Linked DNA regions of Homo sapiens. The protein of the gene in region 7 purifies or fractionates together with the protein of the main gene of each other region. This does not show direct contact. Each region holds a gene or a part of one and is shown on either strand. Other genes may lie near its edges. The genes, in order: KLK7, PIGS, MIA3, FAR2, FKBP14, APOD and VNN2.

Region 1 (3,519 bases), on a different chromosome or scaffold from region 7:
GTACCCCCTCTCCCTGGGGCTCTGTCCCCCTCTCTCTGGGTCTCTGTCTGCCTTTCTCTCTGGATCTCTGTTCCCCTCTGTGTCTCTGTCCCCTTCTCTCTCCGGGTCTCTGTTCCCCCTCCTCTCTTTCTGGGTCTCTGTCCCTCTCTCTCTGGGTCTCTGTCCCCCTCTCTCTCTGGTCTCTGTTCCCCCTCCTCTCTCTCTGGTCTCTGTCCCTCTCTCTCTGGGTCTCTGTCACCCTCTCTCTCTGGGTCTCTGTCACCCTCTCTCTCTGGTCTCTGTTCCCCCTCCTCTCTCTGTGGGTCTCTGTCCCTCTCTCTCTGGGTCTCTGTTCCCCTCTCTCTCTGGTCTCTGTTCCCCCTCCTCTCTCTCTGGATCTCTGTCCCCCTCTCCCTGGGGCTCTGTCCCCCTCTCTCCCTGGCTCTCTGTCTTCCTCTCTCTGGGGCTCTGTCCCCCTCTCTCTCTGGTCTCTGTTCCCCTCTCTCTGGGTCTCTGTCCCTCTCTCTCTGGGTCTCTGTCCCTCTCTCTCTGGATCTCTGTCCCCCTCTCTCTCTGGGTCTCTGTTCCCCTCTCTCTGGGTCTCTGTCCCCTCTCCTCTCTCTGTGTCTCTCTCCCCCCTCCTCTCTCTGTGTCTCTGTCCCCCCTCCTATCTCTGTGTCTCTCTCCCCCCTCCTCTCTCTGGGTCTCTGTCCCCCCCTCTCTGGGTCTCTGTCTCCCTCTCTCTGGGGCTCTGTCCCCCTCTCTCTCTGGATCTCTGTTCCCCTCTCTCTGGGTCTCTGTCTCCCCTCCTCTCTCTGTGTCTCTGTCCCCCCTCCTCTCTCTGGGTCTCTGTCCCCACCCCGTCCCCCAGGTCTTTGCACACCCTCTCTGTCACAGTGTCTCTTCTGAATCTGTGAATGTCACTCCTCGCAGTGAGTACACCGTGCACCTGGGCAGTGATACGCTGGGCGACAGGAGAGCTCAGAGGATCAAGGCCTCGAAGTCATTCCGCCACCCCGGCTACTCCACACAGACCCATGTTAATGACCTCATGCTCGTGAAGCTCAATAGCCAGGCCAGGCTGTCATCCATGGTGAAGAAAGTCAGGCTGCCCTCCCGCTGCGAACCCCCTGGAACCACCTGTACTGTCTCCGGCTGGGGCACTACCACGAGCCCAGATGGTAGGTGGCCTCAGTGACCCAGGAGTGCAGGCCCCAGCCCTCCTCCCTCAGACCCAGGAGTCCAGGCCCCCAGCCCCTCCTCCCTCAGACCCAGGAGTCCAGGCCTCAGCCCCTCCTCCCTCAGACCCAGGAGTCCAGGCCCCCAGCCCCTCCTCCCTCAGACCCGGGAGTCCAGACCCCAGCCCCTCCTCCCTCAGACCCAGCAGTCCTGGGCCCCAGACCCTCCTCCCTCGGAACCAGGAGCCTGAACAACAGCCCTTCTGGTCCTCGCCCCCATCCTCTCTGACTGACAGCTCTCCCTGCTCCTCCCTGCAGTGACCTTTCCCTCTGACCTCATGTGCGTGGATGTCAAGCTCATCTCCCCCCAGGACTGCACGAAGGTTTACAAGGACTTACTGGAAAATTCCATGCTGTGCGCTGGCATCCCCGACTCCAAGAAAAACGCCTGCAATGTGAGACCCTCCCCCCCAATTCCTCCCCAGTCCTGGGTACCCTGTCTGCATGCCCCAGGGACAGAGCTTGACCCGAGTGACTGGGTACCAAGCCCGGCCTTGCCCTCCCCCCAGGCCTGGCCTCCTCAGCTTTTTCCACCTCATTCTCTGCCTAGGTCAGGGGTGGGAGTTTACTTAGGGGCCAATGTGGCCCTGGGGATGAGACAGAGAGTTTAATAGGGGTGAGAAAGTGGGGGTGGGACCAGGGAAGGAGACTGAGGTGCTGGCCTCAGGCCCAAACCTTAAGGGGGCACCAAAAACCTCAGTGATTGAGATAAATCATAATGCAATATTTAAAAATAAAAATAAAAACTCATGCAGAAGTCCATGATGGACAAAATGTCACATTTTAAATAAAGAGCAGGTGGATCTTACTGAATTTTCCCTTGCCGTAAGTACTAGCGTGGCTCAGCACAGCGCTGTACTGGCACTGTCTTCATTTAAAATGTGGATACCATGCCCATCATGCAGTTTTATGTATTACATTTGATTTCGTTAAGTACTGCATTGAAGTATTGTGTATTGCAGTTACTGAGATTTTGTGCCTGAAGCTGATGACTCACTCACCTGACCCTGGCCCTGGTCCCGGGGAAAACACTCTTTCTCTCCACCTCCTCTCTGTTCCCTCTTTCTGGCCTTTTGTCATCCCCTCTGTTTCTGAACAGTCTTCCCACATCTCTCTTTGTGACATAATTTCATTTCATTCTTTTCCTCTTTGTTTTTTCTCTGTGTTGAGCTAGCTTGCTCTCCCTCCCTTGTTCTCTCTCCATGCCCTCCTCTCTGCTCTCTGTCTTCTCCCTCTTTCTCTTGCTTCTCTCTCTCTCCTCCCCTCCCTCTCTCCTCTCCCTGCCCCCCTGCTCTCTCTTTTTTCCTCTCTCTCTGTCTCCTCTCTGGCCCTCTCCTCTTTCTCTCTCTCCCCCACTTCTCTGTCTCTCTTCATCTCTCTCCCTCATCTCTCCTTGCCCCCTCCTTTTTACTGTCTCTCTCTTTCTCTTTCTTCTATCTCTCTCCTCTCCCTGCCGCTCCCCCATCTCTGTCTTTCTTTCTCTCTCTTTATTCTCCTCCTCTCTTCCAGTCTCTCTCTCCTCTCCCCACCCCCACCCCATCTCTCTCCCCACACCTTCCCCCCCTTTCTCTTTGTCTCTCTCTTCTCCCTCTTTCTTCTCCACCCCCATCTCTCTCTCTCTTCTCTTCCCACACCCTCCCCATCTCCCTCATCTCTTTGTCTGTCTCTCTTCTCCCTCCTTCTTTTCCACCCCCATCTCTCTGTCTCTCTCTCTCCCCATACCCTTTCCCTCTTCCTCATCTCTCTTTGTCTCTCTCTCCTTTCCCTCTTTCTTCTCCACCTCCAACTCTCTCTGTCTCTCCACACCCATCCTCCTTGCTCACATCTGCACCTTCAGCTGTCAGGGGATGTGGGATGGTGAGTGTTAGGGATAGAGGAGATGGGAGAGAGATGACTGTCCTAGAGAATAGGGTGTTCCCCTTCTCCCCTGGTGAGGGCCAGTTTCATGAATGTGCAAGCTCTGCACGGACACAGAGCCCCACACTCAGAAGGGTCTCAAACTTAGTCTAATGCATTCCTGCTGTTGTCTTGAAATTCTCAATAATTTTTGAACAAAGGGCCCTGCATTTTCGTTTTGCACCAAGTCCTGTAAATTATGTAACTGGTCTTCACCCTGGTCTCCGAGACCATCGTGTCCCCCTTTCCTGCGCCACAGGGCACGCATCCACCCCTTGGAGATGATGTTCCTTCTCCCACTAGCTTGGAGCAGGGTCCTTAACATTGGAAAATAAAGAGTGCTCTGATCCTGGAAGCCCCACCCCTTCTCTGCAATTGGTCTCATTGGCCAAGGGTCAAACCAGTG
Region 2 (4,544 bases), on a different chromosome or scaffold from region 7:
CCAGTAAGTCCTAGGCATTGGTGGAAAGGGTGCTGGGCCTTACTGTGCCTTCCATCTACCAAGGAAGATGCCTGGAGTTCATCCAGGATCTATGGAAGTCTTTCTACAGGGATATGGTTTATTTTCCTAGGGTCAGCTTGAAACCTCGCACTCTCATCTGCACTCCTGCTTGGGGGCTGGTACTGCCGTCTAGAGGAAGGCTGGGACACTAAAGATGGCAAGCCCACACATACCATGGACCTCACAGGCTCTCTGGTCTCACCACACTCTGGCCCTCTCTGGCTACTCCAGTCCCAAGCTGCAGAATCCATCCCCTGCCTGCTTACCTCAGATGCCACGTCGTCCTTAATGACAATGTTGCTGATCTTGCCCAGAAGCTGCGCCAGGGAGGTAAGGGTGGTGGTGGCTGTGGCCAGGTTCTCCACTGACCGAGCCCAGAGCAGCCGGTCTAGCTCCCAGGTCATTAGCCCTTCACTCGTAGGCCCTGAAAGCAGGCATTTTGGAGGCAGCTGGGGCTGAGCAATCCCAAAGAGCAACCTGTAGGAACATCGGAGTAAGATCAAGGTGGCTGAGACCACAAGGCGGGAGATCATGGCTAAGATTTCTCAAATATCTGTCCTGAGCCAGTGATTTTCAATCTTACCCAGAACCATAGGGGTTAAAGGGAAGTACCTCAGGGTCTTGGGGGCATAAGGGGCAACACCAAACAAGTTGGCCCCAAACGCTGCTTCAACAGGTGTTTCTGCTTTTACCTGTTTCTACATTAGATTTCCAAGATCTTGTTTTTTAAAAAAAGGTTCCATGGCTAAAATACTTCTGATAACACCAACTCAGTTTAATCCTTTCACCTTTTCTACCCTCTCTTTGAACAAATGGGGCCAATGGGACTTAGCATTAAGGGATGATCCAGGACTGCCTTTGCCAAGGCACATGTGCTGTGCTTCTCTAAGCCTGCATCCGTGAGAGACACTGCTAGTCAATCAGAAGAATACTCTTTCCTAATGAGCCCAGATACAGCCTTAGAATCCTCAACACAGAGCCTCAGGCAGCCACTCTCAATCCATCAGGCAGCATAAGAATTAACAGCTATTTTCTTAAGCAGCCCTAATCACACTCCATGGACCTGACATTCATGAGTCTATTTTTCTTAAAACTGGTTTTGCTGGCTGGGCACAGTGGCTCACGCCTGTAATCCCAGCACTTTGGGAGGCCTAAGCGGGTGGATCACGAGGTCAGGAGTTCAAGACCAGCCTGGCCAAGATGGTGAAACCCCGTTTCTACTAAAATTACAAAAAATTAGCCAGTTGTGGTGGCGGGCACCTGTAGTCCCAGCTACTCGGGAGGCTGAGGCAGAGAATTGCTTGAACCCGGGAGGTGGAGGTTGCAGTGAGCCAAAATGGCACCACTGCACTCCGGCCTGGGCAACAGAGCAAGACTCCGTCTCAAAAAAAAAAATAAATGATTTTGTCACCTACTAGTCCTTCTTAGAAGGATGATGGGATCCTTAGAAACTTTTCTTGGTTTCCCTGGGGCTCTAGGCACAGCCAAGATATCCCTGCCAGGTAAGACTTGATTCCACTTTGCAACTCCCCTCTACAGCCAAGGAGACTATGTCCCCAAGTGGATCATCCAGGACCTCACCGCAACTGTGCCAGGAACACCTCCATCACTCGCACCATGTCCACCTCGACTCTCACTGGCAGCACTGAGGCATTATAGGTTTTGGAGTCAACATTATATACCTGAAAGGGGGAATGAGATTGCCACAACATCATACCAGGCCCTTGCACAGCTCTGCCCTAGGCACTCTGGAGAGAAAAGGAAAACATATTCTGTGCTCTTTAGAAGCTATAAACCTCATGGTATAGCTAATATTTTTTGAGTACCTACTACGGAGAGCATTAAATACATTATCCCAATTACCCCCTTGAAAGTCCTGTAGAACATATTTTTTTCTTATCCCATTTTAGAATTCTCCCCCATGAGAAACTTCCAGTCTAACAAGGGAGACAAGGCTCCCAACCTTGCAAGACTCCCACAAATAAGGCGAAGATCTAAGATGGACACAGAATGATCCTAGGTAAGGGCAAAGGGTCACAGTATAGAAAACACTGGCGGAAACAAAAGTGGGGCCGGCAGAAGAGGGGCATGAGCACATAGCACCCTCACCTTCCTGGTGCCTGCCCCTCCCACAGGCTGGGCCATGGAGGACACCAGAAGGAAAACAGAAGGAACACAGTTTCAGGGACACCTGCCTGTCCCAGAAGCATGGGCTCTGGGGTCTGCGTAGTGTGACTATTACCATAATGCCACCCCAGCGGGGACTATGGAAGGCATTGGTGGCCACTGGAGCGCCATCCTTGTCCTGAATGTACAGCGGTGAGTGTGCAAGCTCAGGCACGTAGAGTAGAAAGTTGAGCACAGGGTACAAGGAGGCAGCACTGGATCCTGTGGTATAAAGGGAAAGCAGAATATCAAAACATGCTGGACCTGGACCTTAGTCCCAGGTCGGCCTCTAACTTGCTGGTCACTCACTCTGGGACTGATTCCCCAACTAACAATCATTAGGATATCCTCCTGTCCAGGGTGTCTCTAGTAAAGGGCTTCAGAATGTTCTCCCGAGATGTGCCATACCGATGGAAACATAGTCCTTAGCTCCAAAACACCCCCGAATTCTCCCTCCTCAAAGGCCCCTTGACTGTCTACGACAGCTTTCTTGGCCACTCCCACAATGTACCCATATTACTACAGATAGTTTTATGCAAACCAGAAATCTGACCTTATGTCAGTTCCCTGCTTAATATCCCTCAATCACTAGCCACCCATATCAGGTTAAAGTTCAAACTCCTTAACATGGTCCTTTATGACCTGGCTCCTGCCTGCCTAACCGGCTTCATCTTTGGTCACTCACTCACATTTCAGCCACACTAAACTACTCTGAGCTTCCTGAATGCCTAAGCTCTCTCACTTGTCTGCATCTAAGCTCACAGTTCCCTTTGCCTGAAATGCCCTTCTTTTCTCTACTCAGCACTGTCATAAGGTAGTCCCTCAGTCAATGTTTGCTGAATGAATAAATGAACGGAGGAATTTTCTAAGGCCTCACATGCCACCCCCTCACAATCCTTGGGCCACACTAGCCTGCCTCTGGTATCTGAGATTCCACAATTAGATATACTCACTTTGGTTTGCCTGTGTTACAGTTCTTAGTCACACCTCCTCTTCCTAGTTTCCACCCGAAAAATGAAAAACTCTAATACTAGCTTCAAGGTTATTCAACCTCAATCAGCAGAACTGTCAATTCAAATTCTGCCCTCAAGTACTTTTGCTGTTGTCTTTCCTATGTGTGTGACAGCCTCTCTCCTAGATGGCTTTTAGGGAGATAGACCCAGCCTAGTCATTCATTTGTAAAAAGTGCTAGGAATCACGTTTAATAAATGCTTTTGGATATGATAGGTGTGAAGATGGAGATATCAACAGAGCATCATGAAAAAGGAACCTAGGGCTCAGGCATAGTGGCTCACGCCTATAATCCCAGCATTTTAGGGGGCTGGGGTGGGAAGATCACTTGAGGGGAGTTCAAGACCAGCATGGGCAACATAATGAGATCCTGTCTCTAAAAAAAATTTTGAAAATTAGCCAAGTGTAGTGGCACATACCTATAGTTCTAGCTACTCGAGAGGCTGAGGTGGGAAGACCACTTGAGTCCAGGAGTTGGAGGCTGCAGTGAGCTATGACTGTGCCACTGCACTTTAGACTGGGCAACAGAGCAAGGCCTTGTCTCAAAAAAAGAAAAAAAGGAGCCTCAATCTCCACAGTCTCCTCGGACCAACCCAACCTGGGAACCATCACTGTATATAATCCACCTCCAACTCCTGTCCCCTACCCAGCTGAGCCGTCAGGGTCCCTCCCTAGCCTGGCAGAAAAGAAAGACCCTCATCCTTAGGTGCTCACCCAGCCGGGACTCCACTGGGTTGATGACATGGGGGAGGCTGTGCATGTCCAAATAGTAGCTGGAGGAAGCTGAGTCAAAGCGGGGATTCACCCCCAACATTGCATAGTAAAGAATCTGTAGAGCAAACAGGGAGTGGTTACTTTGTTTAGATTTATATTCTACTTTCTCCCAAAAAAGATTTGAGGTGCCTTAAAAAAGACACAATCAGGACAAGGCAACATATAAGAGACAAAATCAGGGCTGAGAGAAAATAATTGCAGAAGAAAATAGCAAAGCCAAGGGTAAACTGAATAAACTAAATACGTGCTTTAAAAATCACGTATTTTACCAGGTTTCCTAACAGTCTACACAAAGAGAGAAACAAAGAACAGCATAATTCAGTGTCTACAAGATCAAATCAAGCCAGTTATTCAGAAGCAATTACTCCCACTAGGAAGACCTGATAAAAATTTCTCCCACGTGTTTTCCCTACAAGGAGACAGCGTGATACAGAAAGCTACATTCTTCACATCTTTTTTTTTTGAGATGGAGTCTCACTCTGTTGCCAGGCTGGAGTGCAGTGGCACAATCTTGGCTCACTGCAAACTCCACC
Region 3 (4,544 bases), on a different chromosome or scaffold from region 7:
CACATGAATCATTCTTCCCCTGGGGAAGAGAGAATGAAGGGAAGCCAGGAGTATTACTCAGATGGGAAAGTGGGTTCCAGCCTCCTATCCACCCACTGCCCAAGAACAGTCAGTGCCCAGTGTTGACGCAAAAGCTCCTCTAGAGCCAAACGTGAATTCGAGATTATCTCAATCATTAACGTGGATAAGACTTTGCTCTGGTGACACTTGGCTATTGACAGACTAATGTTTTTCTTTTTCTTACAGGAGACGGATTTTGTTTGTTTTGATGGAGGAAGAGATGATTTTCATAATTATAATGTAGAAGAACTTTTAGGGTTTTTGGAACTGTACAATTCTGCAGCTACAGATTCTGAGAAAGCTGTAGAAAAAACTTTACAGGATATGGAAAAAAACCCTGAATTATCTAAGGAAAGGGAACCTGAACCTGAACCAGTAGAAGCCAACTCAGAGGAAAGTGATAGTGTATTCTCAGAAAACACTGAGGATCTTCAGGAACAGTTTACAACTCAGAAGCACCACTCCCATGCAAACAGCCAAGCAAATCATGCTCAGGGAGAGCAGGCTTCATTTGAATCTTTTGAAGAAATGCTGCAAGATAAACTAAAAGTGCCAGAAAGTGAAAACAACAAAACCAGCAATAGTTCTCAGGTCTCAAATGAACAGGATAAGATTGATGCCTATAAACTTTTGAAAAAAGAAATGACTCTAGACTTGAAAACCAAATTTGGCTCAACAGCTGATGCACTTGTATCTGATGATGAGACAACCAGACTCGTTACTTCATTAGAAGATGATTTTGATGAGGAATTGGATACTGAGTATTATGCAGTTGGAAAGGAAGATGAGGAGAACCAAGAAGACTTTGATGAGTTGCCATTACTTACCTTTACAGATGGGGAAGATATGAAAACTCCAGCAAAGTCTGGCGTTGAGAAATATCCAACAGATAAAGAGCAGAATTCAAATGAAGAGGACAAGGTTCAGCTAACTGTGCCCCCTGGCATCAAAAATGATGATAAAAATATACTAACAACCTGGGGGGACACTATCTTCTCTATTGTCACAGGAGGTGAAGAAACAAGAGATACGATGGATTTAGAGAGCTCTAGTTCAGAGGAAGAAAAAGAAGATGATGATGATGCATTAGTCCCAGATAGCAAACAGGGGAAACCACAGTCAGCAACAGATTATAGTGACCCTGACAATGTAGATGATGGTCTTTTTATTGTAGACATTCCTAAAACAAATAATGACAAAGAAGTAAACGCAGAACATCACATTAAAGGAAAAGGGAGGGGAGTTCAGGAATCCAAGAGGGGCCTGGTACAAGATAAGACAGAATTAGAGGATGAAAATCAAGAAGGCATGACTGTGCACAGTTCTGTTCACAGCAATAACCTCAACTCTATGCCAGCTGCTGAAAAGGGTAAAGACACATTAAAATCAGCTTATGATGATACAGAAAATGACCTAAAAGGAGCAGCTATTCATATCTCAAAAGGAATGCTCCACGAAGAAAAGCCTGGAGAGCAGATTTTGGAAGGTGGCTCAGAGAGTGAATCTGCACAGAAAGCTGCAGGGAATCAAATGAATGACAGAAAGATTCAACAGGAATCCCTGGGTAGTGCACCACTCATGGGAGATGACCACCCTAACGCATCCAGAGACAGTGTGGAGGGAGACGCTTTGGTAAATGGGGCCAAACTGCACACGCTTTCAGTGGAGCATCAACGTGAGGAATTGAAAGAGGAATTAGTTCTTAAAACTCAAAACCAACCTAGATTCTCCTCTCCAGATGAGATTGATTTGCCCAGAGAACTGGAAGACGAGGTTCCCATTCTGGGAAGAAATCTTCCCTGGCAACAAGAAAGAGATGTGGCTGCCACAGCCAGTAAGCAAATGAGTGAGAAGATAAGGCTCTCTGAGGGAGAAGCCAAAGAGGACTCCTTGGATGAAGAGTTTTTTCATCACAAGGCAATGCAGGGCACAGAGGTAGGACAGACAGACCAAACTGACAGCACAGGAGGACCAGCTTTCCTTTCTAAAGTAGAAGAGGATGATTATCCCTCTGAAGAACTACTAGAGGATGAAAACGCTATAAATGCAAAACGGTCTAAAGAAAAAAACCCTGGGAATCAGGGCAGGCAGTTTGATGTTAATCTGCAAGTCCCTGACAGAGCAGTTTTAGGGACCATTCATCCAGATCCAGAAATTGAAGAAAGCAAGCAAGAAACTAGTATGATTTTGGATAGCGAAAAAACAAGTGAGACTGCTGCCAAAGGGGTCAACACAGGAGGCAGGGAACCAAATACAATGGTGGAAAAAGAACGCCCTCTGGCAGATAAGAAAGCACAGAGACCATTTGAACGAAGTGACTTTTCTGACAGCATAAAAATTCAGACTCCAGAATTAGGTGAAGTGTTTCAGAATAAAGATTCTGATTATCTGAAGAACGACAACCCTGAGGAACATCTGAAGACCTCAGGGCTTGCAGGGGAGCCTGAGGGAGAACTCTCAAAAGAGGACCATGAGAACACAGAGAAGTACATGGGCACAGAAAGCCAGGGGTCTGCTGCTGCAGAACCTGAAGATGACTCGTTCCACTGGACTCCACATACAAGTGTAGAGCCAGGGCATAGTGACAAGAGGGAGGACTTACTTATCATAAGCAGCTTCTTTAAAGAACAACAGTCTTTGCAGCGGTTCCAGAAGTACTTTAATGTCCATGAGCTGGAAGCCTTGCTACAAGAAATGTCATCAAAACTGAAGTCAGCGCAGCAGGAGAGCCTGCCCTATAATATGGAAAAAGTCCTAGATAAGGTCTTCCGTGCTTCTGAGTCACAAATTCTGAGCATAGCAGAAAAAATGCTTGATACTCGTGTGGCTGAAAATAGAGATCTGGGAATGAACGAAAATAACATATTTGAAGAGGCTGCAGTGCTTGATGACATTCAAGACCTCATCTATTTTGTCAGGTACAAGCACTCCACAGCAGAGGAGACAGCCACACTGGTGATGGCACCACCTCTAGAGGAAGGCTTGGGTGGAGCAATGGAAGGTGAGATGCCTATGGCCTTGTAGAACAGGGCTGGAGAAGCAGGTGGGTGGGTCGCTGAGGTGCCTCCTATCTTGTGAAGCTCTGTTCAGTTTCCAATGTGCCTAAAGGAGAGGGACAACACAGGGAGGTCCACATGTTCCTTCCTGCCATCTTTCTTTTAGGCTGGAGCATGGAGAAGAATTTCTTGCCGTTTCCCTTAGAATAGTTGAGACTGGTTAGCATTTTCAAAAGGAAACTTTGTAAAAAGCTAAAGAGAAAGATATAAACCAGAAAGTAATATACAAAATACAAATGTCATGTAAAATTATGAAAGGGTTTTATTGAACACAATTTTTCAGTCGTCAGATAACTGCTCTGTAACCATGGATTGACTGGTATAACTTTTAGATCAATGCCTTGGCTAAATTCCTACGTTCTCCCCAATTTTATCTTTTGTGGATGGCTTGTTCTTCCTGTTTCTTGGGAGCACTTACTCCAGTTAAACCCTCCTGGGCCGTAAGGTTCTTGCATGCAGATTAATCAAGATTGGGACAGGGATGCCTTCGAATGCAGTGCTTGATGCGTGGAAGCCATTCAGTTGAATTAACCCCGAGCCAATATCCTGACATAAGCATTCTGATTCCTAGTTCCTTGTTCTATTCTCTGCATCCAGGCTTTTCTCTTTCTTTTCTTTTCTTTTCTTTCCCTTTGCCCACCTGCCCTTCCTTCCTTCCTTCCTCTTTCTTTTTTTCTTTTCTTTTTTTTTTTCTTAAGACAGGCTCTCACCCTGTCACCCAGGCTGGAGTACAGTGGCATGATCATAACTCATTGCAGCCTCCAACTCCTAGGCCCAAGCGAACCTCCCATCTCAGCCTCCTAAGTGGCTAGGACTACAGGCATGCATCACTGTGCCCAAATAATTTTTATTTATTGTAGAGACAGGGTCTTGGTATGTTGCCCAGGTTGATCTTGAACTCTTGGCCTCAAGTGACCCTCCTACTTTGGCCTCCCAAAGTACTGGGATTACAGGTGTGAGCTACCGCACCTGGTATATCCAGGCTTTTCAGACAGATGTATCTGAATTGAGAGTACCAAGGGGACAGGAAGCCACAGGAAAACGTATTACTCCAGAGTGCTAATTTTTCCTAAGAAATGGGGGAGGAGAACTTTTTTGCATTTAATTAAAACATATATTTTGGATAAGAAGGCAATATTCAGATGAATTTTCAGGGTAAAATATGAGGCTACAAGGAAATTCACCTTTGCTGTGGATCACATTGGACTGTCCCCTAAGCCTCTTAGGAGAGGAGATGGCTTCACTTTGTTTGACTCTTAGAGGTACTTTGAAAGTATTCGAAAGACATCTCAGCAAGCTGCCTTGGCGTGGAATGTCCCTGTCTGTACTAGTTCTGTGAGAAAGGCATGCTAGGGTATGCAAGAGTTCATGTTACTTCTCTGCAGAATAGATGTTTCACATTTCTGCTCTTGAGTGGAATTCTCATTT
Region 4 (4,544 bases), on a different chromosome or scaffold from region 7:
GAAGTTTTGTTTTGCTCAGTGGCAAAGATCAAATGGGACCATCCCTCTCCCTGTTGACCACTCTAATTGAGTCCTGAGTGGAAAAAGCTTAAATATAAAGGGTTTGGCAACTTTTAGAAGAAGGAGACTCTTGAAAGAAGGTTACCAGGAAAATTGAGGATTAAAAAGATTTAGAAATAATAGCTATCAAATTCGAATTTGAGAATATTAATTTTGACTTAAAAGCATAATACACGAGTCCCCAATGCAAATATGCTTAATCCCTCACTCTATACATACTTATTTACACTTCTTGTTCCTTTTTAAGAAGTGAATGTAGTTAAGAAAAATGTTAAATGTAAACCTACTTTTCTGATTCCCCCACCCCTCAACCAGGACTCCAGGGTATAACATAGAAAGAAAGAGAGACATTTTCAGTGGGGAATTACTTCTCTTACTGCATTTTTGAGGATATTGAGACCATTCTCCTTTTACTCATCTTGATTTTAAATTTTTCTTTTGGGTACCCAGAATGGTTCCAAGGTTAGTACTGCTTGAGCTCATTTCAGCTTCTGCCATGCATCTTTCCATATTTACTGAGTTTAAATGAATCATCTCAGAGAGAAAAGAAAAACTAAATATAGAAAAGTGGGAGTACTTTCACGTTTAATACGCAAGGGCATAAAATAGAATGTTAGGAAACAATTTGGATTTTTTTCCCTAAAATATAGGTGACTATGGGCTAGTTTACAACTTTCCTTCTCTCACTGAAATAAAAATACATAGTTAAGGAATAGGGACGAATACATAACAGGTGACATTTGACAGTTTGGGCATATTCCTTGTTACTTTCTAATCTTGAGAATCACAGTTTGCTGTTTTAGAGGTATCTGAGAGGTTCCAGATAAAAAGCGATGGCTAAATGCTCTTAAACTTTGAGCGTGCTGGATGCTCTAAAGTAGGAGAGGAATTTATAACAGAAGCTTACAATGAAGAACCAGACATTCCGAGCCATCTGAGATCTTGCAATGAGAAGGCGCCAGGCGATAAGGAAGAGGGCAGTATTAAAGAGGTAGTGAATATTTCGGAGCCTAGGGAACAGACAGACATAACCAAAGTTAAAACTACCAGATACCCAACCACATTATCTGAAGATAAATATGTGTTTTCCTGGATATGACTGGCAAGTATTTATGAAGTGCTCAGAGTATTTGATATAACTTGGCCAATTGGTTTCTGCGTCTTTCATTTCCACAGCATTCTTGCTGAATAGTCAGATTTCTACCATATTTCCCTAATTTCTCTTATACCTCTCTCCACTTGAAACTATTTACAAGCATGACTAGCATAATCTTGTAAATATACTTTGGTCATGTTACCACATCATAAATCTTCACTGGTTCTTGTTCATTAGAAGGTAAATTCTAAAGTTCTTGGCTTGCTATTCAAGGTTCCTCCTTCCTGTTTTGCAAGCTACTTTTTTATCCTTATCATCTCTGCACTACAGATCCTCTGCTTCTACCAGGATTATACCAGAGTGCTAGAATTCCTTGTCCCTCAGGGATTACGACTGAAAGAAATTTAAGAAAGTTGAAAAAATTGAGGAGTGACTTTTTTCTAGGTTAAATAGCATAATCAGGTCTCCTGCCTGTTGGGTATTTATATCCCATTATGACAGAGTGTGGTAGAAGAAACAAATTTGGGTTCAAATCTGGCTCTTAGACTTACTATGCAATTACCATGGGCAAGTTATTTGCTGTGTTTAAATCTAGATATCTGCCTCATAAAAATGGGGTAACAAAAGTAATACTTGCCTCATAGAGGTGTGGTGAAGTCTAAATGAAACTGTGTTACAGGGTAGAGTATGGAGTGCAGGACCTGTAATGTAGTAAATGCTCAAGAAATGTTCATTCTCCTCTGCACAAATGTTATGTCTGGTATAAAGTCGATGCACAGTAGGTGCTCAATAAATATTAACTGACTGATTATACTTACCTTTTTAAGCGTTGCTTTGCTTTTGGGATCCCAGCCATATCCTCTTTCAATAAGTATTTTTTAACTCCCAAAACATAATTTTCAATGTATTCCAACCAGTTCAACTGGCGCACGTCAAAGTTGAATACCTGAGAGGCAAGAGAGATTATAGATTGCCAGAATTGCAGTGCTGGACAGTCACTTTGTCCACTTGAGGTTTCTTCTACATAGACGAGTGACCTTCAATTTGGGAGACATAGGTTGGACCCTCTCCAAAGGAGAGATTATTTGAGTCATTATTTCAAAGGTACTGATAATATGGATTACTATTTACATAGGAATATTTAAACATGGATCAAACACAAACACTTCACATTTCTTGTGAGGGAGATTTAAAGGAAATAGTATTACATAGTCTGGTGAAAACTTATGGTTGGCTTGGTATATATTTCAGCTAACCGAGGAGTAATTATTTTTAAAAGTGATAGAATAATATGTTAGTGACCAAAACATAAATGATGCAACTTTCCCTTTCCTCTTAAATTTTGGTGTTATCCCTTTGTTCTACCATCCTTTCCTACAGCATTACCATTTCATTATGCAGATTAAACTTTGGGAAGCAAAGCCTTAAGGAATAAGTTACCAGAATTTATATTTAAGAAGAGAGTGATTGGTAGTGAAAGAAAAAAGGAGTGATCACAACATGGGGGAGGAGTAGGGAAGAAGGAGAAGGAAGAGATTGATCTGTTTAGGGAGAGAAGTTGTGCCACATAGAAGACAGATACAGAGAGTGACAATAAAGAAAAATGATTAAAAAATTTTTAAGGTATCTTTGAGGAAGAGAAAAGAAAAACACTTGCATAACCAAAAATGTATTCTTTTTTTGGTTTGTTATGGAAAAGCTGGAGTAAAGATTTGAATTGCATTCCATAGATTTTATTTTTTGTGTACTTTGAAAATGATGCTGAGCTGACACAGGATCAGGAGGTGGCCCAGATTTATATGGATTACAAATGGAGATAGGATGAGTTAGGAAGAGAAACCTGATAGGTCATTCTTGAGCCATCCAGGGATCTTTTCAAAATCTCCATATAAAGGGCCTAATTGGAGAAAGAAAGGGAGGGAAATGATCTTCAAATATATTAGAAAAAATAGTTTTGATTGAATATAAAGAACTTAGGGCACTAAAACTTGTTAGTAGAAAGAGTGTCAAGAAGATTCTGGTATCATCTCTGGAAATATTTCAAGTATTAGGTATTCTTGGAGAGTTTGGTATGACCCTGTTATCAAATAAAAGATTGCATCAGTGAGTGGATTTGGTTCAATAGAGTTTTATTTCATGTATTTGGAGAGAATGGCCTGGAAAATGGACTTGTGCTAGCATTTAAAAAGTCTAATATTTATAAATCTTAGCAAGTGGAGGGTGTGTTTAAGGTGCTTTTGTCCTTCCAATTGGGCACTCTTCTCTCTCCTTGGACATACAGCACTCTCAGATCACTTTTTGTCTATTCATCCCTGGACATTAAAAAAAAAAAAAAGCCTATCTTTAGTGGAGAGTTTCACGTACAGTGAAAGAAAGTTGCTCGTTACTCTTAACTTACTTAACTTCTGGTGAGGCCTCACTAGGAAGGACTTTAATAGCTAAAATGGCTTAATTCAAATAAATGATATTCCTAGAACAACAAGAATGATGTTCCTTTGAATGGCACAAAGTAGACATTCAATAAATACTTGCTATTAATGAATTATAGAATTTAGGTCAAATTAATTTAAATATTAATTTTGAACACCAAAAGTGTTTCTTTTTTGTTACACAACAATTTATTCTATTTAGTCTGTATATAAGCTTTACATGAATATGACCAAAGTAAACTCTTAGTTTCCTTTTTTCAGACAATCAGTCTTTGATCGAGGCTTAGATGGTACCAAATAAAAGGCATATATTATCAAAACCAAAAAGCCAATCACCACTAAAGGTCAAGTTTGTTAACTTTAAAATGGCTACACGATTTTCTGAGAATCTCTTGGGTTTAATTCATAAATTGCATCTTTCCTCCAGAGTCTATATTTAGCTCTTTTTCTCTTCAGGAAATATTACACTTCTAAAGAATGTAATTGAATTTGACATCTTAAAGATTTAGTAGTTCTCTAAGGCTACTCGATTCTTTCTCCTTTATATGCAAATTAAATGTTATATTTTAATCACAGAAAACCATCTTAGAACTCGGAGGAAAGTAACTAAATATTATTATCCCTATTTAACATTCTAGGCATTCAGTAAACATTTAATAATGAGCCCTTTGCTGATTCATTGTGCATATTGCTTTTGCTTTATCCTCTCAACTTGCATGGAGAAACATGACAAGAAATAACTTTTTAAAAATCATAAATGGGCCAGGCGTGGTGGCTCATGCCTGTAATCTCAACACTTTGGGAGGTCGAGGCGGGCAGATCACCTGAGGTCAGGAGTTCAAGACCCGCCTGACCAATATCGTGATACCCCGTCTGTACTAAAAATACAAAAATTAGCCAGGCGTCGTGGCATGCGCCTGTAGTCGCAGCTACTTGGGAGGTTGAGACAGGAGACGCGC
Region 5 (4,544 bases), on a different chromosome or scaffold from region 7:
TTTTTGGTCAGAAAGTCCTGACCTAGAAATACATACAGTATTGCCATTTCTACCACTAGAAGGCATTTCTACCCATATAATTGAGTAAGCTCTGGTGTCACACTGTCTGAGGCTGAAGTTTACATTTGCCCATCTCTAAGCCTCAATTTCCTCATCTATAAAATGCAGATAATAAATTTCCTCCTCAGGAGTCTGTTGGGAGGATAAAGGGAGAAAAATCCATGCAAAATACTTAGCATTAAACTTGACAAATAGTAAACTCTCAATACATGTTATTGAGGTATAATTTTCTCACAGGCTTTAAAAATAATGCAGGAAGGTTTAACAATTTCAGAAAGTTAGGAAACACTACCTCTGATATAGAACATTATATATATGTTGAAGACATTTCATGGGAGGGGAGAAATTAAAATGAATTTCTGAGAAGGGAAATTAAAAATCTTTAAAAGTGAAAAGAGCTTTGTTAAAATCCCAGGAACCTGAAACAAACAAACAAACAAACAAACACACCCATCTGTGGAGTATGGACAATTGTTTTTCTCAAACTTGTTTCCTTATAACTATATTTAACATACAGGTCTGTGTAAACATGTTAAATATTTCTTAGTCATCCTCCCCCCATCCCACATATTTCCATGAAAGAACATTCATAAATTCCAAAGAGAAGACTTATAAAGTGTGCTGAAGCTTACCATTTCAGATCTAGACAGAGATGTGACATGCGCTAGGTTGTTGATAAAACTGGTATCTTTCCAAAAGAGGCATGCAAGCATGTACTAAAAGACTACAAAATTAGTGTTAAATACAGATTAGAAAAATTAGTTTCATGGCATTCAGTTTGAAGGAAATGACTCAAATTTAGATCTCTACTTATTGTGAAGTAAACTTGAGTTAAATATAGTATGAGAAAGAGTAATGGACTAATACAACGTACAGTAGTCCCCACTGGGATATGTCCCAAGAATCCCATTAGATGCCTGAAACCATGGATAGTACCAAACCCCATACATACAATGCTTTTTCCTATACATGCATATCTGTGATAAAGTTTAATTTATAAAATAGTCATAGTAACAGATTAAAAATAATAAAATAGAACAATTACAACAACATATCATAATAAAAGTTATATGAATGCAATCTGTCTCTCATTCTCAAAATACCTTAATATTTTCAGACTGCAGTTGACCACAGGTAACTAAAACGGTAGAAAGTGAAACCACAGGTAAAGGGGAACTACTGTATGTAAATATTAAAGGTGAGACAATAAAGATAAAATGAAAACATTCTCAGCATCAGAAAAAATTTTCTAGATACTTGGTTTTCTTCTCTAAAGAGGATTATGACTAAAAGAAGAATTGAATTTGGTTAGTTAATCTTATCCTATGAACAAGATTTGTATAGATTTGTATATTTTGGAATATATAATGCTTGCCATATGGCATCTATTTTCCTTCTCAGGAAATGGGCTGTGAATCCTGACTCCTCACTTTTGTCAGTGGTTAACCTTAGACTTCAGGATGCTATGAAGTCTATATTTATACTATATCAGAGTAGTTGTCTGTCTGGTTCTGATGACTACTTAAACTTTTTTTTCTTCATTATGTAAGTAATACATGCTCATTGTAGAGCACATACTTGGATGATAAAACCAGAAATAAATATGATTCCCAGTATCACAGTCCATTTTTAACATTCTTATTTATTTCCTTATGATTAACTTTCTATGTATATGTACCTTTTCCTATATTTACTATCATATATACTATAGGTTTATTTTCTACTTTTATATATAATACTGTATCTCATGCATTTCAGATATAATTTTTAAACTCTTTGGAAATGCCATTTTAAATAACTGGGCCATATTTTATTTAGCTAAATTCTTACCAGTATACCACTTACGACAGTTCCAATTTTTTGCTTAGAAACAATGCAATTATGGACATCCCTGTTCACAAATTTTTTTCCTGATATCTAATTATTCCCTTAGGTTTGAAGGAATTATAGAATAAATGCATATAGACATCTTCAGACCTCTTTTTTTTTTTTTGAGATGGAGTTTGGCTCTGTCCCCCAGGCTGGAGTATAGTGGCACGTTCTTGGCTCATTGCAACCTCTGCCTCACATGTTCAAGCAATTCTCCTGCCTCAGCCTCCTAAGTAACTGGGATTATAGGTGCACTCCACTACGTTCAGCTAATTTTGTATTTTTAGTAGAGACAGGGTTTCACCATGTTGGCCACGTCGGTCTCAAACTCCTGACCTCAAGTGATCCACCCTCCTTGGCCTCCCAAAGTGCTGGGATTACAGGTGTGAGCCACCATGCCTGGCCCAGACCTCTTGATATATATCACAAAGCAGCTCTTTGGAAAGTTGCAGGGGTTCTCACTTGAACAGCAGGATATGTGTCTGCCCTGAAAAACTAGTACAAAAGCTGTCCGGACCAGCTAGCCAGCTTGCTTCTGCTTTGTGACACAGGGAGAATTAAATTCATTTCATGTCACTCTATGATTTTTTTTAAATACATTGTTAAAAACTTTATAAATAAATTTAAAAACGGGAATGAAAAGAACTCCCAGTTTGCTGTGGGAGACTTAATATTCATGAAGTACAACCCATATATAACCCACATCTAAAATGCATTCAATACTTTAATAATCTATATTTCACATGTTCAACTCATCCAAACACTTACGTTAATGGATCTTTCTCTCTGCATTGTTAAAGTAAATTGGTGAGTTTCAGTTTGGGAAGATGAGAACATTCTGAAGATGGATAGTGGTGATGGTTCCACAATAACATGAATGTATTTAATGCCACTGAACTGTGTACTTAAAAATGGTTCAAATGAAAAATTTTATGTATATTTTATCACAATTAAAACAACCCACCATATTTGTGAACAGTATTAATAGACCTCAATGTTCTTTTTTTATTGTTAGCATAGTTGCCCATTTAGACATTACGGCCTTAAACTGGCCATTTCAATTGATACTCAAGACATAATACAGTTGCTAAAGGAATACATACCCCCTATTAACTTCCAGGGGAAAAAAAAAAGTTATAGTGACTCTAACTTCTGTCTCCTAATCCAGAGAACAACTCTAGTGCTATAGTAAGAAAAATACAGAAATACTATTACCTTTTCCTTCTTTTCCATAGCCCAGAGCAGGAGGAATGATGAGCTTTCTCTTCTCTCCTACACACATTCCTTTCAAGCCCTGGTCCCAACCTTTGAGAGCCTCCAGGATGCCCAGGGTAAACCAAATGGGCTGACCATTGTTATGTTTGTGACTATGATAGAAATAAAACACATTAGAACTCCTTATTAACTCTAAAAAATTTTCTTTAGTGCATTTTCCCACCAGTAAGTGGTTAAGTTTATTAGTTTAAAAATTTATAAATACAGCAATTCTGTATTTGCACACATACACACACACCTCCAAGTCAAGTTTATAGGAATTCAATTCACTGCCCATCTTTCTTGATGCAAATTTCACATACTTGACTGGGCTTAAGAAAGACAGAGGAAATAATAAAAACAACAACCATTTGAACATTTGTTGTATACCAGGAATTATTCTAAATTTTATTTTATTTTTTGCCTCTTAACCCTTACAATAAGTCTATAATATAAGTACCATTACTACCCCATTGCACAGATGAGGAAACACAGGTTAAGTTCCAGTCTTTAAACCTAACTCCAAAGTTCAAGGTCTTAATCACAAAGTTATGTTGTCCCAGGAAGGCCACTAGGTTGCAGAACAAGGAGAAAATAATGGAAAAATGGCTGAGTTTGGGAAGGAGATTGAAAGGCTAAGGAGAATTTACTGCCAACATATGTGGGTCCATATGCACACAGATATGAAGAGTGAGAAGCACAGTGTCTTATATCCTGCCTACAAACTTGCCTTAGCTATGGCCTGCTGATGGCTCTGACGGGTAGAAAAGGCTGCTTTTCATCCCTAAATCCCCACTCAGACCCTAGCCCAGTTTCCTCCTCAGGGGTCTACAGTGGGGCTATATAGGAAAGTCTGGAAGAGTAGCCCCTCAAGGACTGGTGTGTTAGTCCATTTTCATACTGCTATGAAGAAATATTCAAGACTGGGTAACTTATAAAGAAAAGGAGGTTTAATGGACTCGCGGTTCCACATGGCTGGGGAGGTCTCACAATCATGGCGGAAGGCAAAGGAGGAGCAAAGGCACGTCTTACATGGTAGCAGGCAAGAATGAGTGTGCAGAGGAGCTGCCTTTTATAAAACCATCAGATCTCGTGAGACTTATTTACTATCACAAGGAGAACAGCATGGGAAAAACCTGCCCTCATGATTCGATTACCTCCCACCAGGTCCCTTCCACAACATGTGGGGATTATGGTAGCTACAATTTAAGATGAGAATTGGGTGGGGCCATAGCGGAACCCTATCAACTGGGGACGAGGGAAATAGAATGTCCTGGCTCATGAGTTGAAGAGAGTCTAGCCTAGGAAAACCAACCTGCCGAACTACATACAGGGAGGCTTAAGGGCTGAGTAATGCCTGA
Region 6 (4,544 bases), on a different chromosome or scaffold from region 7:
GTTGGTCAGGCTGGTCTTGAACTCCCAACCTCAGGTGCTCCACCTGCCTCGGCCTCCCATGGGATTACAGGCTTGAGCCACCGCACCTGGCATCACAAGGAGTTTTAACCACAGGAATAAAACTAATGTAACCAAGAGGCATCTTTGGAAGAGGGTCAGTCAAAGGGGTTGTTCTGAAATCCTCCTACTGAGGTAAAGAATCTGTTTCAGCTCACAAGAGAGCATTTTGTCAGAGTAAGATGTAGAACTGACTTTTGTTGCAGTGTCATGTGGTGGTGAGACTCATCAGGTCACAGAGGTGGGGGGTTATTGAAAGGCCCTATGGCGGTGCACAGAAGAAGCAGATTCGGGGTGCTGCAGACAGGAGAGGGGGAGATGGAGCTCGAGTCCCAGCTCTCTGCCCCTTCCAGGCCCCAGCTTCCCCATCTGTACACCTTGGAAGTAGAGCTAGAAAGATGACCTCTAAGGTCCTATCCAGTGTGGGGACCTTGTGGAATGTGCATAGTGTGTGGCCAGTCTTTGAGGTTTGATCCTCTGGGCCAGGCTTTCAGCTTGGGCCTACTAAGTAGAATTCAAGATCTCTTTAAAATGGATGCAAATTTGTGTGGGTTTAGGCTGCATTTCTATAAATTCATCATCCCCCAAAAGGTTAAAAGACAGGTTTTGTTTATACAGTGGTGGAGCCGATGAGAAACGGAACCTCAGAGACCAGGGAAAGTGGCCCTGTGGCAGACTTGCTCAAAGGGGCCTCAGCAACCATCTCCCCCTGCAGCAACCCCAGCTGGCAAGCTGCCACTCCTTACATAACTGTTCTTTGGAAAACCAGGCAACAAAACCTCCAGGGGAAAAAAAGCTATTGATTATTAAAGGGTATTTAGAGGTTTAGAGACTCACAATAAAGCAGTTATAATTATTCCTGTAATGACACATCCTTCGAAATGCTCAGATCTGAGAACATTTTGCTTGCATTGCATCAGTCATCATCATTACAGGGAGAAATGCAGAGAGCTGGAAATAGCTCGTGTGCAAGCTACAGGCAAGGAGTCACAAGGAAAGGAGCAAATTGACAGCGAGTCAGTGAAGGAAACAGGGGAGCTTCCAATGCCCAGAACCTGCACACAGTCCTGCAGCCTCTGTCTCCCTGCCTTGCTGCCCCGCTTCAAAGCCAGCTTCTGCTGCCAAAGGACTCTTGGGGTTGAAATGCTTGTTGCACAGTTACACATCAGCTGACAGTCCTTCTCTGATTTAATGAACTTCATCTATGAAAAATACCCTCAACAGGCCGGGTGCGGTGGCTCAGGCCTGTAATCCCAGCACTTTGGGAGGCCAAGGCGGGTGGATCCCCTGAGGTCAGGAGTTTGAGACCAGCATGGCCAACATGGTGAAACCCTGTCTCTACTAAAAATACCAAAATTAGCCGGGAGTTGTGGTGGACACCTGTAATCCCAGCTACTCAGGAGTCTGAGGCAGGAGAATCACTTGAACCCGGGAGACAGAGGTTGCAGTGAGCCGAGATTGTGCCACTGCACTCCAGCCTGGGTGACAGAGTGAGACTCCATCTCAAAACAAAACAAAACAAAACAAAAACCCTCAACAGAATGTCAAAAAAAAAAAAAGAAGAAAGAAAGAAGAAAAGAAAAGAAAGAAGAAACCTGGGAAATACCATCATCTTTCTGCTTTTGATAATAACAATAACTAGCATTTATTGAGCATTTACTCTGTATCAGACACTCCTCTAAGTACTCTCTGTATATTATCTCATTTAATTCTCACAAAAATTCATGAGCTAGGAATGATAATTATTCCCATTTACTAGACAAAGAAGCTAAGGCATAAATTGGACACAGTTATACTTAGTATGGGGCAGAGTCACAATTTGAACCTGGCTGGGGTGACCCTGGAGCCCCCAGCAGGCCGCTCCCTGTTAAGGTTTCCAAGCGCACTCTTGGGCTGGTAGAACAGCCAGCAAGACGAGGGCAGGGGGAGGGATGGTGTCAGAGAGGCATCTCCCTGAAGAATCTCAGAGGACACTAAGTGTTGGGCAACATTTGGTTTGGTTTCGTGTCTTTCGTGGTTCACTTGGAGGCTTTAATCCCCCACTTTACATAGCCCTCTCCACGCTGTTTCTGTTCATTTGACAAGTATCTACTGAGCCGACACTTTGAGGTCCGTGGGTGATTCTGAGGAGAACTAGACACAGTGCCCATCCTGGGAGATGCATAATTAGGTGGGACAGGGGTGAAAATCAATCCAACAAACCAGAATACCAGGCAGAGAGCGCCCTCGTGGAGGTGCAGAGGCTCTGAGGAAGGCCTCACAGCAACAAGGACAGGCAGGTGTTCCCCTGCAGGATGAGGGTTCACATGGGCTGGGGAGAGAAGAGGAGGGACCGCCCACAGAGGGGACCATGGGCACAGCACTCTTACTTCATGATTGTGTGGCCTTAGAAGGCTCAGAATGACAACCCCAGCTGCTTTGCGTTCCCGCAGCTCCAGGTCCCTTCTCCAGCCACCCAGCCCCAAGATGGTGATGCTGCTGCTGCTGCTTTCCGCACTGGCTGGCCTCTTCGGTGCGGCAGAGGGACAAGCATTTCATCTTGGGAAGTGCCCCAATCCTCCGGTGCAGGAGAATTTTGACGTGAATAAGGTAAAAGGCGAACCTCCCGTTTGTTTTGCTGCCTCCGCTGTGAATAAGCGTTCTACAAGGTTCAATGTAATTATGCTGCTTTAATTTCCACTGCACACCTTGGGACAAGTATTTATCTTATTTGGGGTTTCCCCAAAGCAGACATCTGCTGAGATAAAGACTGCAGGCAGAGAGGTTTGGGATGATCCCGGGACGCACGAGAGCAGGTGGGAAGGTGAGTCGGAGACAGCACAGAAGCAATAAAGGGTGCGTTCCTGAGCTGTCGCCCTGGGCCGTCAGGGTCAGTCACACTGGGCACCCTCTGAGGACACGTGGAGCATGCCCCTCCGATTGTCCCACAGCTGCTGCCAGCAGGTCATGGGAGCATCCGTGGCTCTAGCTGAGCCCCCTGGCAGAGGAGAGACACAGGGTCTCAGGTGGGAGGCTGGCAGTGTCTGGGAATTGCCTACCGTGGCTGCGGTGAACTCAGAGGTGGGCTGAGGGGAACAGGACCAGGGAACCATAGTAGCTGCTACAGAGCTATTATCCTTGTTCTACAGATGCAGCATCGGAATCTCCCTCCCCAGCTCACGCAGCTGGTAAATGCAAGTAGGATTCAAAACCAGGCTTCTCAGCAGTGCAGGGCACCCAAAGGTCACTCAAACAGGGCTCAGGAAAGCCCAAAATTCTCCAGGGGGCTTTCTTGGTATCTGCACCAAAATGTCATCAATACAACGAGCTCCTCCATAGATGGTCTTTCTTCCTGGGGTTTAGCGGGAGGGGAAGGAAGAGGGCGGCAGAAAGAGGCAGCTATTGGAGGACAGGACTCACAGGCTCCCACTGTTGCTACTCAAGCCTGGAATCTCACCCTTAAGACTTCCTCTCCTTAGGAGAAGGTTTGGATCTCTTTTAAGAATGGCAACAGTAACATCGAAGTTGTTATCATACACTCGCACCTCAAGGTGAATGAGTGTTGGGACCTCTGAGGGGACGCTGGGTGGGAGAAGGAGCACCATCCATGGGATCAGGAGATACAGGTGTGGTAGGAAGAGGCCATAGAGTACACTAACGTCTACACTGACTTGCTCCACTTACAGGCTGATCCCTTTATTCAGGTAACTCTGATAGACCACAGAGAGGCTTTAAAGAAAACATCCAAGGAATCTGAGTTATACTTTCGCTTTTGGATACAAATCCCAAAGCACTTTGGAAATGATAACTGATCTGTATTTATAGAAGTCCTTTGAGAATTAAAGCAGGATTTAAAAAATAGCAGCTTTATTGAGATATAATTTGTATAGCACGTAATTCACTTGTTTAAAGTAGCTTTTCACTTTCCATTGTTGTTAGTATCATCACAGAGTTACGCAACCATCACCACCACCATCGATTTAGAACATTTCACTGTTCCGAAAAGGAACCTCATACCCATTCACGGAGTCTCCATCTCCCCTCCAACCCTTCCAGCCCCAGGCAACCACTAATCTACTTTCTGTCTCCGAATTTGCCTATTCTGCATATTTGATAAAAATGAAATCATACTATATGTGGTCTTTTGTGACTGGTTTACTGAACGTTTTCAAGGTTCATCCACGTTGTAGCATGTATCAATACTATATCCCCTTTTATTGCCAAATAATATTCTTGTAGGAAATCGTTATAGGAAATCAATTGACTGTATATGTGAGAGTTTATTTTTGCACTCTCAGTTCTATTGATCTATATGTCTATACTTATGCCAGTACCACACAGTGTTGATTACTATAGCTTTGTAGTAATCAAAGCCTTGAGGTAAGCTTTGAAATAAGAACACATGTGTCCTCCAACTTTGTTCTTCTGGTTATTCCGTGTCCCTTACATTTTTATATGAATTTTAGGATCAGCGTGTCAATTTCTGCAAATAATCCAATTGGAATTTG
Region 7 (4,544 bases):
TAAAGAAAATGACACTTTTGGCTGGGCGTGGAGGCTTATGCCTGTAAGCCCAGCACTTTGGGAGGCTGAGGCAGGTGGATCACTTGAGGCCAGGAATTTGAGACCAGTCTGGCCAACATTGTGAAACCCCGTCTCTACTAAAAAATACAAAAATTAGCGGGGCGTGATGGCACATGCCTGTAGTCCCAGCTATGTGGGAGCTGAAGCAGGAGACTTGCTTGAACCCAGGAGGTGGAGGCTGCAGTGAGCCGAGATTGTGTCACTGCACTCCAGCCTGGGTGACAGAGGGAGACTCTCAAAAAAAAAAAAAGAAAAAAAAGAAAAAGAAAAAAGAAAATGACACGTTGTAAAAAACTACTCAGAAAAACATGTAGGCAGAGAACTGTTAAAAAAAAAAAAAAGTAGCATGATGGTCCAGGATTGAGATAAACTTTTTGCACATATAAAACAAATAATTTTAACATAAAAAAAGATACTAAGGTGACTATAATCTGGGCACTGTTTCAATAATTTTATATTTTTTTAGAGACAGGGTCTCACTGTTGCCCAGGCTGGAGTGCAGTGGAGCCATCATGGCTCACTGTTAACCTCAAACTCCTGGGCTCTAGTGATCCTCCTGCCTCAGCCTCCCAAGTAGCTGAGACTGTAGGCATGTGCCACCATGCTAATTTTTAAATATTTTTTTGGAAACAGAGTCTCACTACATTGCCCAGGCTGTCTTTGAACTCTTCACCTCAAGCAGTCCTCCCACCTTGGCCTCCCAAAATGCTGAGATTAGAGGCATGAGCCACTGAGCACAGCCATAATCTAAATACTATTTAATATTGAAATGGTAGAAAGATGTTTCAAAATTGTATGAATCAGCTTTGCATAAGTTAATTTGCTATCAAACCACAAAATACCTTATTTTCTACACCAGCTAATTTAATTACCATCTTATAGATTTAAGATCAAACCATAAAATGTTTACTTTAAATTCTGAATTGAAAAAAGGAATCAAATAACCTTTAAGTCATAATTTTATACTAAACTAGGTAGAGAAAGAAGCCTGGCCTTTTAAATGGATATGTGTGATGTACAGGCAGTATGAATGTCCCTTCTCCACACCCAGATATTTTGTAAGCATCTTAAACTGTAGCCTCAGAATCTTTGGAGTGGAGAAATTATCTCCTGGCAGTCTCAGTTAAAATATAAATATTAATTAAGAGGAGGGATGTTAAACCAATGGTTTTCAAATGATTTCGATCATGGACCCCTATTGGAAAAAATCGTTAACATAAGTCCTCAATATATGTATTTTTGTGTGTGTATTTATAAAGTGCAACAATTTCAAAATGCTTTCTTCATAATTTTGTGGATTTTGACAGCTTCTTTTCATATATATCACTGCATTTCACTTTCTTCTTAAAATGTGTCTCATAGTAAAAATAGAAAGGTCAGTGCTTCCATTTTCTTGCTTGGGAGATTGTTTGCATTATTTGTATTATCTTTCAATGCAGTTTATTTGCAGTAATCATTTGAAGCTATTCTGCCATTCTGTAAATATGCAGGATGGCACAGTGCACTGAATGTGGACAAACTAGCAAGGAACCTGCAGTCACCCTGTCTAAGTTGAAAGGCTCTCACTCTTCCCTGAGGGTACCTCAGGGACCGTTTGTAACCCATGACCTCTGACATATGTGAACCTAATGAGAATACCTTTGTCGATCAATTCCTTTTTTTTTTTTTTTTTTTTTTTTTTTAGGCAGAGTCTGGCTCTGTCATCCCGGCTGGAGTGCAATGGCACGATCTCAGCTCACTGCAACCTCTGACTCCCAGGTTCAACCCATTCTCCTGCCTCAGCCTCCTGAGTAGCTGGGATTACAGGTGCATACCACCACACCCGGCTAATTTTTGGATTTTTTAGTAGAGATGGGGTTTCTCCATGTTGGCCAGGCTGGTCTTGAGCTCCTGGCCTCAAGTTATCTGCCTGCCTTGGCCTCCCAAAGTGCTTGGATTACAGGCATGAGCCACCTTGCCTGGCCTGTCAATTCTTAAAATAGTAGTAAAGCCCAATTTCTTTTCTATTTTTTAGATATTTTTTCTACACTGCAGACCATTTTATTAACTGTTGATTCCATTTATTATATTAGACTAAGTTTTTTTTTAGTTTACCTAGAAGGAATCGGGAAATTAAATACATTTCTATGGTAATTTTGAAAGGTGGGCAAGAGTCACTGAGATTACTTTGGATGGGACACTAAAGAGAGAGATGACATCTCTCACCTGACTTACAGGTATTTATTATGCATCTATTAATATTACGTTTCTAGGCACCAAGGATTCAAAGAAGAATAATGCATGTTTTTTAACTTTTAAGAAGCTTATAGGGCCAGGTGCTGTGGTTCATTCCTGTAATCCCAGCACTTTGGGAGGCCCAGGTGGGTGGATCATGAGGTCAGGAGATTGAGATCATCCTGGCTGACACGGTGAAACCCCGACTCTACTAAAAATACGAAAAAATTAGCCGGGCATAGTGGCACGTGCCTGTAATCCCAGCTACTCGCTTGAACTCAGGAGGTGGAGATTGCAGTGAGCCGAAATCATGCCACTGCACTCCAGCCTGGGTGATAGAGCGAGGCTCCGTCTCAGAAAAATAAAATTAAATTAAATTTAAAAAAAGCTTACGGACTTTGGGGTTTATGGGGGGGTATTTGGCTCTTAACTGAGAGAGAGGGAAAGAGAGAGAAGGGAGAGAGAGGAGATGAGAGATGCTATGGACGTATGTTACATATTCCTCCACATTTTCCTTAGAAATTTACTTCCAATTGCCAGATTTATCCGCTTCCTAGGAGATTCCCTGCAGTTGACCATAGCCAAATCTGTTACCAACTTAGAGGGTTTTTATGAGTCATTTCTTCAACAAATAAGGTTTTACTGGTTTTCTCCTATCCATTTGTTGTAGTACCACCTGTACTCTGAGCCTCAGTTTAATGTCCCTGAAAAGCCGGAGTTGGTGACTTTCAACACCGCATTTGGAAGGTTTGGCATTTTCACGTGCTTTGATATATTCTTCTATGATCCTGGTGTTACCCTGGTGAAAGATTTCCATGTGGACACCATACTGTTTCCCACAGCTTGGATGAACGTTTTGCCCCTTTTGACAGCTATTGAATTCCATTCAGCTTGGGCAATGGGAATGGGAGTTAATCTTCTTGTGGCCAACACACATCATGTCAGCCTAAATATGACAGGTAATTCATGACCAGGTTAGGTTTCATCTTATATTTTTAAGTGCAGAGAAATGAATGCCTCAGTTATGACTTGTATTAATTTTTTGCTTATTGGAAATTCTTACTGTGTTTGTCATAGTTTCACAATAGAAAAAAAAAGCTAGCACTTGATTATAAGCTATGGTTATACTAAGACCTTTATGTGTATTATTCATTTAATTATTACAATAATTATATGAGATAGATAGTGTCATCCCAATTTTGCAGATGAGAAAATTGACATACAGAGAGTGCAAGTAATTTGCCAAATGCTACCCAGCTACTACTTTCCTCAGTGGCCATGGAAGCCTCTATATCTTGCCCTTTGTCTCCTCCTATGGCTGCATGGCATATCCTCGTGACATGGCTGCTGTCTTCCTCTAGAGCAATTAATGAGAGGGGACAAGAGAGAAAAGGAAAGAAGCCACATTGCTATTTATGACTAGTTACCCACCATCACTTCTGCCATGTTCTATTCATTGGAAGTGAGTCACTAAGTCCAGCCCCTCTTCAAGGGGAAAGGAATTAGATCCTCCCACCAGAAAGAAGAATTTTAAGGAATTTTTGGATATATTTGAAAACCACCACAATGAGGAATAGGGGAGAATTTTTATTCCCTTTCCCCACCTTTCAGGAACTCCTGACTACAAAGATTTTTGTAGTTGGTTTAATTTTCCATAATGCTAATAAATAATGCTATTATATTTAAGGTTTAATTGAAATGAGACCAAGGAATGTTTATTTTAATCTCTTCCATTAGAGAATAGAAGTAGTTAGGTGTTCAGTGCAATTAGAAGCATGTATCCTCTCTCATCGTGACTAATATGGTGGCGTGATCACATGCCCAATTCTGATGGGGAAATTGGCAGTTTTGGTTTTTTTGTGTGTGGTGTTGTTTTTAGAAGACTTGTCTTTCATTCACAGGAAGTGGTATTTATGCACCAAATGGTCCCAAAGTGTATCATTATGACATGAAGACAGAGTTGGGAAAACTTCTCCTTTCAGAGGTGGATTCACATCCCCTATCCTCGCTTGCCTACCCAACAGCTGTTAATTGGAATGCCTACGCCACCACCATCAAACCATTTCCAGTACAGAAAAACACTTTCAGGGGATTTATTTCCAGGGATGGGTTCAACTTCACAGAACTTTTTGAAAATGCAGGAAACCTTACAGTCTGTCAAAAGGAGCTTTGCTGTCATTTAAGCTACAGAATGTTACAAAAAGAAGAGAATGAAGTATACGTTCTAGGAGCTTTTACAGGATTACATGGCCGAAGGAGAAGAGAGTACT

What was found.
Region 1: the proteins of VNN2 (region 7) and KLK7 purify together in Homo sapiens (affinity purification with mass spectrometry; 2 studies listed by BioGRID and IntAct, with this or other methods). This does not show direct contact.
Region 2: the proteins of VNN2 (region 7) and PIGS purify together in Homo sapiens (affinity purification with mass spectrometry; 2 studies listed by BioGRID and IntAct, with this or other methods). This does not show direct contact.
Region 3: the proteins of VNN2 (region 7) and MIA3 purify together in Homo sapiens (affinity purification with mass spectrometry; 2 studies listed by BioGRID and IntAct, with this or other methods). This does not show direct contact.
Region 4: the proteins of VNN2 (region 7) and FAR2 purify together in Homo sapiens (affinity purification with mass spectrometry; 2 studies listed by BioGRID and IntAct, with this or other methods). This does not show direct contact.
Region 5: the proteins of VNN2 (region 7) and FKBP14 purify together in Homo sapiens (affinity purification with mass spectrometry; 2 studies listed by BioGRID and IntAct, with this or other methods). This does not show direct contact.
Region 6: the proteins of VNN2 (region 7) and APOD purify together in Homo sapiens (affinity purification with mass spectrometry; 2 studies listed by BioGRID and IntAct, with this or other methods). This does not show direct contact.

Annotation. Positions count from the first base shown.
Region 1 is NC_000019.10:50,977,881-50,981,399, reverse strand, and holds part of KLK7 (kallikrein-7 isoform 1 preproprotein), read left to right. Parts: intron 1-912; coding exon 913-1,160; intron 1,161-1,475; coding exon 1,476-1,612; intron 1,613-3,519. UniProt on the Homo sapiens protein: May catalyze the degradation of intercellular cohesive structures in the cornified layer of the skin in the continuous shedding of cells from the skin surface. Specific for amino acid residues with aromatic side chains in the P1 position.
Region 2 is NC_000017.11:28,554,525-28,559,068, forward strand, and holds part of PIGS (GPI-anchor transamidase component PIGS), read right to left. Parts: intron 4,067-4,544; coding exon 3,952-4,066; intron 2,449-3,951; coding exon 2,303-2,448; intron 1,743-2,302; coding exon 1,642-1,742; intron 538-1,641; coding exon 327-537; intron 1-326. UniProt on the Homo sapiens protein: Component of the glycosylphosphatidylinositol-anchor (GPI-anchor) transamidase (GPI-T) complex that catalyzes the formation of the linkage between a proprotein and a GPI-anchor and participates in GPI anchored protein biosynthesis.
Region 3 is NC_000001.11:222,627,329-222,631,872, forward strand, and holds part of MIA3 (transport and Golgi organization protein 1 homolog isoform 1 precursor), read left to right. Parts: intron 1-246; coding exon 247-3,061; intron 3,062-4,544.
Region 4 is NC_000012.12:29,330,158-29,334,701, reverse strand, and holds part of FAR2 (fatty acyl-CoA reductase 2), read right to left. Parts: intron 2,103-4,544; coding exon 1,975-2,102; intron 1,858-1,974; coding exon of another isoform or gene 1,830-1,857; exon of another isoform or gene 1,071-1,829; coding exon 908-1,070; 3' UTR 1-907. UniProt on the Homo sapiens protein: Catalyzes the reduction of saturated but not unsaturated C16 or C18 fatty acyl-CoA to fatty alcohols (FAls). A lower activity can be observed with shorter fatty acyl-CoA substrates.
Region 5 is NC_000007.14:30,019,521-30,024,064, forward strand, and holds part of FKBP14 (peptidyl-prolyl cis-trans isomerase FKBP14 precursor), read right to left. Parts: intron 3,297-4,544; coding exon 3,145-3,296; intron 785-3,144; exon of another isoform or gene 693-784; intron 1-692. UniProt on the Homo sapiens protein: PPIase which accelerates the folding of proteins during protein synthesis. Has a preference for substrates containing 4-hydroxylproline modifications, including type III collagen. May also target type VI and type X collagens.
Region 6 is NC_000003.12:195,577,441-195,581,984, reverse strand, and holds part of APOD (apolipoprotein D precursor), read left to right. Parts: intron 1-2,489; 5' UTR 2,490-2,523; coding exon 2,524-2,646; intron 2,647-4,544. UniProt on the Homo sapiens protein: APOD occurs in the macromolecular complex with lecithin-cholesterol acyltransferase. It is probably involved in the transport and binding of bilin. Appears to be able to transport a variety of ligands in a number of different contexts.
Region 7 is NC_000006.12:132,751,150-132,755,693, reverse strand, and holds part of VNN2 (pantetheine hydrolase VNN2 isoform 1 precursor), read left to right. Parts: intron 1-2,202; exon of another isoform or gene 2,203-2,276; intron 2,277-2,944; coding exon 2,945-3,233; intron 3,234-4,175; coding exon 4,176-4,544. UniProt on the Homo sapiens protein: Amidohydrolase that hydrolyzes specifically one of the carboamide linkages in D-pantetheine thus recycling pantothenic acid (vitamin B5) and releasing cysteamine. Involved in the thymus homing of bone marrow cells.